Homo sapiens: one gene and its partners. The protein of the gene in region 1 interacts with the protein of each later gene in a pairwise test. Each region holds a gene or a part of one and is shown on either strand. Other genes may lie near its edges. The genes, in order: NME4, CCDC102B and HBD.

Region 1 (3,752 bases):
CGAGCCGCCGTTGCACGCCATCGGGCTTCACCGCCACCAGGGTCCGCTCCCGGGTCCAGGAGGGCCCTCCTTCAAAAGGCAAGAGGTCAGAGGCACTGCCACCTCACCCTTTCACGTCCCCACGACCCGGGTTTCCCAGCCAGAGCCCAGGGGTCACCAGGCTTCAGGGTGTCTGCCTCTATGCAGGGCACTCTGGAAGGGACAGGGATGGTGCCCACAGCCACAAACACCCCCATGATAGTCCCTGTCAGGGACACCCAAGGCAATGTGTCCCCAGGGCTTCTAGCCTCTCCCAGGGGCCATGGCTCCTCCCAGCAGAGGCAGAGGCTGCCTGAGATCGCCCCGAGGTTCAGGGAGGCACTGCCCAGCTCAGGGACCACCACCGCAAGGTCCATAGAGGCAGAGCCAGCTCAGGGACCACCTCAAGGTCCAGGGAGGGACAGCCCAGCTCAGCGACCACCCTGAGGTCCACAGAGGCACAGCCCAGCTCAGTGGCCTCAGGGAAGTCTGGAGATCCTGCAAAACTCCAGCCTCACTTTTGACTCCATCCCTTCTGGATGACGACAGACATGGTCTGAAGCCCCGACTTTCCACATGAGGAAGAACCCAGAGCCCACCCTGTGTCTGAGGTGAATGAGTGGCAGGGAACCAGGGAGAAACACACTTTCCCCACCAGGTGAGCCCTGGAAACACGGACAAAAAGGGGCCTGAAGATTGAAGAGGGAAGGTAGCAGGGTTCTGTCCGAGCCAGGAGACGGGGCCTGTGCTGCTGTGGAGTTTCAAGGCCTGTCGCTTCCAGACCCAGGGTCAGCGCTGAGCTCCGCCCCAGCCGTCCTCCTCTGGAGGGGACGCTGCCAGGGAAACAGAAGACGTCCTCACCTTCCTATAGTCCCAGGCTGCTCCAGAGCCAAGCTACCCTCCGGCATCGGGTCCCTGGTTTCCAGAGGAGCCCAGACCCTGTATGTCCCACAGAATCTGGACAGAGCCAAAGGGGCTCCGCCAGGCCAGGAGGAAAAGTTAACCCCAGCAGGCGGCTGAAGCCCACGGGAGGAAGACCCCCTGGTTGGTTTGTTCCCCCAAAACCCAGTTTGCAGGGCGCCTTGTGTAGCCTGGGGCTCTGCTGCGGCTGGTGCGGGCATTGCAGGCGGCGGCTCACTTTTCAGAGCCGATGGAGGGAGCCCTGGGACATGGATCGTCCTGTGAGGTGGCAGCTGGGGGGGCCGGGCAGCGGCGGGGCCGGGGACTTGGGGCCTGACGTCCCAGTCAGATTCTGGCCTAACTTGGCCTTCAGCGAACGCCCCAGCGGAGCGGCTCCCCCCACCCCCACCCCCCGACTCCCTCACCCCCCCACACCCCCACCCCCACCCCCCGACTCCCTCACCCCCCCACACCCCCACCCCCACCCCGGCCGGGAGACCCCCTCCCCGCCCAGTGCTGCAGCCGGCCTCTGCCTTCCTTGCGCTCCCGGGCCCTCGGTCGCCCCGGACCCGCCCAGGCTGCCAACTCGCCGGGCGCCTGCAGCCTGGGGCCTGGGGAGGCGAGAAGGAGCCGCAGAGCCGGACGGGCACTGGAGGGGCGTGCGGGTGCGAGCCGGCGCCTTCCCCAACTCGGACGGACCCCGCAGCCCGCGCCCCGAGGCCTCTGGGGGAGTCGGACCCCAGCCCGCACGTGCGCGCACAAAGGCCGAGCGGCGCGCGCCCCTTCCTCCCCTCCGCGTCCCCGCCGGGGCGCGCGGCCCCACTCACCCGAGCCGTGGCGCACTAGCAGGCTCGGGCCCGGGGCCCGCGGGCCGCAGCGCAGCCCCCGCAGCGCGGAGCGCCAGAAGAGGCCGCCCATGACGCCCGGCCCGCGGGCCGCTGTGAGCGCGAGGAGCGGGCGCGGAGGGCGGTGCCAGCCCGAGACCCGCCCCCGCCCGCCCGGGAGCCCCCCGCCGCCCCGGAGCCCCCCGCCGCCCCGGACCCCCGTGGCCCGGCGCTCACGGGGGAAATGTTCAACGCCAATTTCTGTTAAAAATCAGAAGAAAAAACAAAATAATAATGAATCCTTCTCGAATTGCATTCGTCTTTACACCGACGCAACCGTTAACTATCGTTTTAACGCTTTCCCACGGAGGAAGGCCCACTCGGGAGGCTGAGGCAGGAGGATCGCGTGAGCCCAGGAGATTGAGGCTGCAGTGAGCTGTGACTGCACCGCTGCACTCCAGCCTGAGCAATAGAGCAAGACTCTGTCTCAAAAATAAATTCACGGACCAAAAGGAGGTCTAGAAGCCCTGGTCTGAGCCCCCTCCAATGGAGGGTGAAATTCCCACGTGAGCCCCAGGGCGGGAGAAGGAGGCGCTCCGGAGACGCTGACTCTGCGGCCAGGACGAGTAGGCGGGACTACAGACCCGCGCCACCACAACCAGCTAATATTTTAATTTTTTGTAGAGATGGGGCCTCCCTATGTTGCCCATGCTGGTCTCAAACTCCTGGGATCAAGAAATCCTCCTGCCTTGGCTTCCCAAGGTGCTGGGATTACAGATGTGAGCCTGGTCTGTGAATTTGAATGGGGAAAAATCCGACCTTTATTCTCAAATGGCCTCTGATGTGACTGCATTCCTCTAATTCATTCAATTGCGGATATAAGGAAGAAGCCACATTCATAGTTGCAGGGCCTGTGACTTTGTCACCAACAGAATTCACAGGTACGGTAATATTTGGGTAGATAGCACAGCATGCTACTATTTGAAATGGTTAGGTCTCCCACTGCTAGAACTTACTTAATGAGTCTTGAAAAAGCCTGTTCTTTTTGCTGCTATTGTGAATGGAATTGTTTTCTTATTTGAATTGTCCATTGCAAGTGTATAACAGACAATTGAGGTTTGTTTGTTTTCAGACAGAGTGTCGCTCTTGTTGCCCAGGCTGGAGTGCAATAATGGCATATCTCTGCTCACTGCAGCCTCCGCCTCCCAGGTTCAAGCAGTTATCCTGCCTCAGGCTCCCGAGTAGATGGAATTACAGGAGCTTGCCACCACACCTGGCTGGTGTTTTTTTTTATTTTTAGTAGAGACGGGGTTTCGCCATGTTGGCCAGGCTGGTCTCAAACTCGTGGCCTCAGGTGATCCACCCGCCTTGGCCTCCCAAAGGGCTGGGATTACAGGCGTGAGCCACCACGCCTGGCCAACAATTGAGCTTTGTGTATTGATCTTGTATCCTGCAAGCCTTCCAAATGCATTTATTAGTTCTAATAGTTTTTAATTAATTCCTTGGGAATTTCTTTGTATAAGATTGTGTCATATGGAGCGGGGCACACTGGCTCATGTCTGTAATCCCAGCACTTTGGGAGCCCGAGGCGAGCGGATCACGAGGTCAGGAGTTCAAGACCAGCCTGGTCAACGTGGTGAAACCCCGTCTCTACTAAAAATACAAAAATTAGCTGGACATGGTGGTGCATGCCTGTAATCCCAGCTACTCAGGAGGCTGAGGCAGGAGAATGGCTTGAACCCAGGAGGTGGAGCTCACAATGAGCCGAGAGCATGCCACTGCACTCCAGCCTGGGCAACAGAGCAAGACTCTGTCTCAAAAAAAAAAAAAAAAAGAAAAGAAAAAACATCATGTCATATGGGAATAGAGACGGTTTCAGTTCTTTCTTTCCAATCTGAATGCCTTTTATTTTATTTTCTTGTCTAGTTGCTCTGACTAGAATTTGCAGTACTATGGTATAAAGAAGTGACTTTCTTTCTTTTTAGAGGCTGGACTCTTGCTCAGGCCTAT
Region 2 (3,752 bases), on another chromosome or scaffold:
GGCAAAATGATGATGATGATGATTATGGTAAAGATGATGAAAAGAGGCACAGATACTCCACCTCTTTTCAGAAACTTGCAATTGTCCCCTTTGTATGATATGTAAAGGCCACATTTTTCTGTGTGCAATGTTAAGATGCTCTATCAATTTTTCCTGTTCTATGTATTGAGTACAACGTCTGATACTCACAAAGGTATATTTTTTCTGCTCCAATCAGATAAATTACTCACCATTCTTTTATGCTCTATGCTAATTTGTGTTCAAAACCCTTTTTGCCAATTACTTCTTCAAAGTAGAGTATTCCTCTTGCTTTCAGCACCTATCCAAGTTCCACTAGTTTTTCAAGACTAAGTTCAAGAAGTTGAACTTTTCTTTAAAGCCTCTGGCATCTCTTTAGGACTCACATACCTGCTAAAAAGGGAATTTCTGAATATTTTGGCATTATGGCAGAATTCAATTGGTCTTGTAATATCAGCATAAGAGATATGACGACCTGAGAGCATTTCTTGTATTTTAAGAATTACAGCCATTGTTTTGTAACTGTAATAATTAGATGAAACATTCATAAATTACCTTGAAGCCAAACCCATAGTGAGGCCCAGAAACAATGTCCCAGTGATCAAGCAATTATTGAATCCAATGATAACATATGAAGGATGCAAAAGAGAGACAATGAAATTATCTATGATTTCATAAGAACATAGGATATTTTGGAAAATAAAGCAATTCACATAAAGCATTTTTCTGAATATATTCAAATAGGTCACACAAACCTACACAGATATTGTATCGCTAACTTATAAATCTTCTTTCTAATTTATTGCTTTCATTAAAATATGAAATAGAATTCAAGAATATTTACTGGATATATAAAAATATTTATTGGCAATAACATATTTTACTAACAAGAGAATATTTACTCAAAAGTTGTAATAACACCATTTCCCATGAAAATTATTAGCAAAAACACATTCACATTATTTTAGAAAACAGAAAAACTGGTATTGATGTAAATAAGAATATCAATAAATATTTTATATATTTTGGTCCTATGTTACTGACATATTTCTAATTATATTTTTTGACGAATCTTTCTTATATTTATATTTAATAAATGTACTCACTTGACATTCAATTGATAATTTATCTTTGCAGAAAACGTAAGCAAATGCTTCCCAAAGGTTTCCAGAGATTTTTTTTCAGTTTTATAATTTACTTCTATATAGCTAAGCATTACTTTTTATTATGCACAGGATTTTATTATTTTATTCTGTATCCCTGTCTCCTCCACACTATACAGGTAGCATGTAAAGAAATCAATATTCATGCTAAGTTTGAAATATACTTTCCATTAACGAATACAAGAATTTAGCATGAAGACTCAACAATTGAAAAGAATTCAAGGTACATGAGGCATAGATAGGAGGATTTCCATAACAATTTTACTTTTTTACTGTAAGAATATAGATTACTTCAAACACAATGACTAATTCACATTCATTTGGAACAATGAAACAAAATTTTAATATCAACATATACTATTACTGTCTAAATGTAGAGTCGAAATTCTTACCTGAGTTTTGCTTAGTATACAGTTATTTTTTAAAGACAGGAAATGTATGACAAATTGTCAGGATAATAACACCCACAGTGGAAAAATGAAAGGGGAAAGGAAGGAATCACTTTAAAAAGAAACTCCAAATCCTTCTGCTTCCCAGCTCTACAGTAGTTTTGCTCTGCATCTTGTAAGCAACTGTCTTTGCTCTGAGAACAACACATGCTGTACCTCAGCAGGAAAATATAAAAATTAAATAGAAAACCACAAGGTTATTAAACACTCTTACCCTCTGGGCTTGCTGGGCTGCTCCAGTGTCTCAGTTGCAGCCACATGTGTAAACAACAGAATTTCCTGCATCCTTTTCTCATCCGTACAGTTCTGGAGTCCTAGCCAACAGGATTATTTCCAGCATTAAGGGCACTCCACACAAACTCAAAAAAGATTCCCATTGGTTGTGAAGTTTTATTGAAACCACTACCACAACCCCCTCTTTGGATCACCATTGAGCCAACCAAAATAAAACCATTTTTAATGTTCCCTAAGTATGGTTATCCAAAGCTTTCCATACAACCATTTGAAACCTGTACTGTGGATGAAAAAGAAAAAGACACCCACGCCTTGATCCACAAGTGTTCTTAATGTTTAATTACAACAGTATAACTTGTAATAATAATAGAAAAACTAAAATAGCAAAGCAAAAAAAAAAAAAAGCCCAGGAAGTACCTATCTGAAAAATATTTAAAAGGAAATTATACTGCACATTACAGGAACAATATAAAATATTCATCCAATCTGATTTGCATTAGATTGCACAAAAGCAAAAGAAATCATATTTAATAAAAGATTTGAGTATACAAATCATGAAACAATAACTGCATGTCAAAACCCTTGATTGTGGTCACATTGGCAGGAATTGTGAGCTGTAGTCCCCGGGGTGCCCAGTGAAAGCTCTCTGGCCCCTTTCCCTGGGGAAAAAGAATATGAAGTAGCTTTCCATTGACATGACTCAGCTGTCAGGAAGTGTTCTGATGGGGGTTGAGGGGGGAGGCGAGAGATCACATAAAAAAGAGCTTCTCTGGTTGAAACTAGCAGCAAAAAAATGTCCAAAGTAAAAAAGAAAAGTCAAAAGGTAACAGGATAGCCTTGCTCCTTTTAAGTAGCAAAAAAACAACATTTGAAATTTAGGCAATAAATGTCTTCAAATTATTTTATTTTTCACCCTTCCCTAATTTGTAGGCTTATTACGGTGTTATCATCTATCTCTACTTAACATTCTTTTCCCACTTACTTTCTGATGCAATGGAAAAGGTGGCCATCTTCCTGTATAAAGCCAATTGACCCATCGAGCTAAACTTAATCATGATTCTCTCTCCTCTATCTTTGAACGTTCCCTCCTGTCCGGATTTTCCCCACGTGATGTTAAATACCATACATTCTCTAGTCAATTTCATGTATGCCAATGAACTTTACTTTTAATTCAGTCATTTTCACTTTCAGGTACCATTCTTTCTGTCATGGCCAAATGATTGAAAGTTCTCCAGCCAAGAATTTTATTTAGTCTTGCATCCACCTGATTTTAATTCATCAAAGTGACAATACACACACACACACACACACACACACATGCATGTACATAAATATTCTATTTATTTTTAATTTTTCTAACTCACCTCAATCCTTCTAGTTGACATCTACACAGCCTTTCATACTGTTCACAACCCTGCCCACATGAAGACATCTCTTGTCTTGGCATAACACTCTCCTGGTTTTCCTCTTGACCTCTTTTGCTGGCCCTTCTCACCCTCTTTGATGATGCCTCATCCTCCATCCATCCTTTGGTGTGCATCACATATGTTCTTAGATAAATCTACATATAAATGGTATATTCTCTCTCTGGATAAAGCCACCCATCCTCATAGTTTAAATTACCATCTTTCTTTTTAGATGACTCCCAAATATCTACTTTTAGACCCAATGACTGTCTGAATTTTCAATACTCATATTTGTCAGCCCACTATACCCCTCAACTAGAAAATTACACAGATATGGCATCAGCTTATCTAAACTGAAATCATCATCTCTCCATGGACCTGCTGTGTTATCTATGTAAATGTCAACCCAGTTTTACAGTTTCCCAAAGAAAAATTCTGGAAGTCATCCTTGACTCCTTCTATTCTATATCAAATCCAGCACT
Region 3 (3,752 bases), on another chromosome or scaffold:
ATATGGTTAACAGAGAAATAAAGACTGGCTTCTGAGAAACTGAGCCAACACCCATTTTTTTCTGCCCAAATCTTAGACAAAACTGATCCCCAGGTTATTCCCATCAGCATAAATAAGTACATATATGAATGCATACATATAACATATATCTATACACACACATCCTCTATGTACTTAACTAGCATGTAGTCTATATATGTACATATATGCTATATATGCTGTATAATACTATATACAAATTAATTCCAAATTAGTTTTAATTTTGTATGTGTATATAGCATATACAAATTAATTACTATAAACAGATTAATAGATACAAATTAATTGATTAATCAGTGTGATGATGGGCTGTCTCCTAGCAACGACTTCTGCCCCACCTCCAGTGTAACTGCCTAGTCTTTCATAATCAAATATTCACTTTCCTTTCCATTCCATTTACTACAGAATTTATAAAATTCCAATTATTCCTTATTGTAAAATGATTTATAGCCTCTAAAACAGTATTCTATGCCTCTCATCTTTGAGTTGGAGCCTCTCCCATACCCATGTGGAGAGACAAAAGGATTATTCTAAGTGCAGAATTAGCAGGTGAGAGCTGGTATGCATAATTTGAGTTGTTGTTAGAGAAGGAAAAATGAAGGGAGGGGGTTGGGAGAGAAAGACAGGATATTAAATAATTTAAAATAGCAAGATTGTGAGGAAGGAAAAAATGCAGAATATTTAAATAAAAAATTAACAAAATTTTAGAAGCATTAAATGATAAAATATAGTAAAATGACAAAAATGTGGGAGAAGAGCAGGTAGGTAAAAGAACCAAAATGTAAGATTAGAAAGTAAAAAGAGAAAAGTGAAGCATCTCCTGGACTCACCCTGAAGTTCTCAGGATCCACGTGCAGCTTGTCACAGTGCAGCTCACTCAGCTGAGAAAAAGTGCCCTTGAGGTTGTCCAGGTGAGCCAGGCCATCACTAAAGGCACCTAGCACCTTCTTGCCATGAGCCTTCACCTTAGGGTTGCCCATAACAGCATCAGGAGAGGACAGATCCCCAAAGGACTCAAAGAACCTCTGGGTCCAAGGGTAGACCACCAGTAATCTGAGGGTAGGAAAACAGCCCAAGGGACAGAGAGTCAGTGCCTATCAGAAACCCAAGAGTCTTCTCTGTCTACACATGCCCAGTTTCCATTTGCCTCCTTGAGCCTCTCTTATAACCTTGATACCAACCTGCCCAGGGCCTCACCACCAACTGCATCCACGTTCACTTTGCCCCACAGGGCATTGACAGCAGTCTTCTCCTCAGGAGTCAGATGCACCATGGTGTCTGTTTGAGGTTGCTAGTGAACACTGTTATGTCAGAAGAAAGTGTAAGCAACAGTCGACTCTGCCCTGCCTTTTATGCTGGTCCTGTCCTCCCTGCTCCAGTGAGCAGGTTGGTTTAAGATAAGCAGGGTTTCATTAGTTTGTGAGAATGAAAAATGAACCTTCATTCCACTATTCCCTTAACTTGCCCTGAGATTGGCTGTTCTGTCATGTGTGTCTTGACTCAGAAACCCTGTTCTCCTCTACATATCTCCCCACCGCATCTCTTTCAGCAGTTGTTTCTAAAAATATCCTCCTAGTTTCATTTTTGCAGAAGTGTTTTAGGCTAATATAGTGGAATGTATCTTAGAGTTTAACTTATTTGTTTCTGTCACTTTATACTAAGAAAACTTATCTAAAAGCAGATGTTTTAACAAGTTGACTCAATATAAAGTTCTTCTTTGCCTCTAGAGATTTTTGTCTCCAAGGGAATTTTGAGAGGTTGGAATGGACAAATCTATTGCTGCAGTTTAAACTTGCTTGCTTCCTCCTTCTTTTGGTAAATTCTTCCTATAATAAAACTCTAATTTTTTATTATATTGAAATAAATATCCATTAAAAGAATATTTAAAAAATGAATAGTGTTTATTTACCAGTTATTGAAATAGGTTCTGGAAACATGAATTTTAAGGTTAACATTTTAATGACAGATAAAATCAAATATTATATACAAATATTTTGAATGTTTAAAATTATGGTATGACTAAAGAAAGAATGCAAAGTGAAAAGTAGATTTACCATATTCAGCCAGATTAAATTTAACGAAGTTCCTGGGAATATGCTAGTACAGAACATTTTTACAGATGTGTTCTTAAAAAAAAATGTGGAATTAGACCCAGGAATGAAGATCCCAGTAGTTTTTCACTCTTTTCTGAATTCAAATAATGCCACAATGGCAGACAAATACACACCCATGAGCATATCCAAAAGGAAGGATTGAAGGAAAGAGGAGGAAGAAATGGAGAAAGGAAGGAAGGAAGAGGGGAAGAGAGAGGATGGAAGGGATGGAGGAGAAGAAGGAAAAATAAATAATGGAGAGGAGAGGAGAAAAAAGGAGGGGAGAGGAGAGGAGAAGGGATAGGGAAGAGAAAGAGAAAGGGAAGGGAAGAGAGGAAAGAAGAGAAGAGGAGAGAAAAGAAACGAAGAGAGGGGAAGGGAAGGAAAAAAAAGAGGAAAAAAGAGACAAGAGAAGAGATAAGACTGACAGTTCAAATTTTGGTGGTGATATGGATCAATAGAAACTCAAACTCTGTTGGTGACACTGTACAATAGTATAACCCCTTTGGAAAACCTTTAATAGTATCCACAAATGCTGGATGCTTGATAAGTCTATTACCTAGCAATTACATTTTTAGATATTCAGAAACACATGCATGTGTGTATCCAAAGACATGTATAGAAATGCTTATGACAGCAATAATCATAAAAACCTCAAACCGGTAGCCACTTAAATGCTTACCAACAGTAGAATTGATAAATTACGGTATAGTCAAAGAATAGAATATTACACAGAAATGAAAAGAATCAACTACTGCTTAACACGTAGCGATACAAATGCATTTTACAGCATTTGGTTGATTAAAAGTAACCAGAGGTGAGTTCAAACTATATGACTTTATTTGTATATAGAAAGATGGATGATGTGCCTGAGATTCTGATCACAAGGGGAAATGTTATAAAATAGGGTAGAGAGGAGCCATGAATGACCTTTAAACTTTGTTACAAGTTATTTTTCTGTAACCTGGAAGCCAACGAAAGATATTGAATAATTCAAGAAAGGTGGTGGCATGGTTTGATTTGTGTCTTTAAAAGATTATTCTCACTTAGTGAAGAAATGTATTTTAGAAGTAGAGAAAATGGGAGACAAATAGCTGGGCTTCTGTTGCAGTAGGGAAGAAAGTGACAATGCCATTTCTATTATCAGACTTGGACCATGACGGTGATGTCAGTCGTGAACACAAGAATAGGGCCACATTTGTGAGTTTAGTGGTACGATAAAATCAGAAATACAGTCTTGGATACATTGTATTGTATGCACTCTTGTAAAATGCAAAAAGATGTACTTAGATATGTGGATCTGGAGCTCAGAAAGAATACAACCAGGTCAAGAATACAGAATGGAACAGAACATACAAGAACAGATCATAATGTGCTGTGTGAATCACTACCACTACCTGTTAAAAATGACAGATGATGTACTTCATCAATATCTCCTTAAAATCTTAGAATGTGTTTGTGAGGGAGGAATTATGTTTCCAATTCATATATAAGAAAATTGATTCTAAAAAAAATGTTAGGTAAATTCTTAAGGCCATGAGGACTGTTATTTGATCTTTGTCTGTTAATTCCAAAGACTTGGCTTTTCACTTTAATTCTGTTCTACCTGAAATGATTTTA

What was found.
Region 2: the proteins of NME4 (region 1) and CCDC102B interact in binary tests that used the Homo sapiens proteins (3 or more experiments, as listed by UniProt).
Region 3: the proteins of NME4 (region 1) and HBD interact in binary tests that used the Homo sapiens proteins (3 or more experiments, as listed by UniProt).

The regions. Positions count from the first base shown.
Region 1 is NC_000016.10:395,307-399,058, reverse strand, and holds the start of NME4 (nucleoside diphosphate kinase, mitochondrial isoform a precursor), read right to left. Parts: upstream 1,861-3,752; 5' UTR 1,837-1,860; coding exon 1,746-1,836; intron 1,318-1,745; exon of another isoform or gene 880-1,317; intron 852-879; exon of another isoform or gene 665-851; intron 70-664; coding exon 1-69.
Region 2 is NC_000018.10:68,796,274-68,800,025, reverse strand, and holds the start of CCDC102B (coiled-coil domain-containing protein 102B), read right to left. Parts: upstream 1,947-3,752; 5' UTR 1,845-1,946; intron 1,756-1,844; exon of another isoform or gene 1,574-1,755; intron 1-1,573. UniProt on the Homo sapiens protein: During interphase, forms fibers at the proximal ends of centrioles to maintain centrosome cohesion. During mitosis, dissociates from the centrosome following phosphorylation to allow centrosome separation. Contributes to CROCC/rootletin filament formation.
Region 3 is NC_000011.10:5,233,122-5,236,873, forward strand, and holds the start of HBD (hemoglobin subunit delta), read right to left. Parts: upstream 1,363-3,752; 5' UTR 1,313-1,362; coding exon 1,221-1,312; intron 1,093-1,220; coding exon 870-1,092; intron 1-869. UniProt on the Homo sapiens protein: Involved in oxygen transport from the lung to the various peripheral tissues.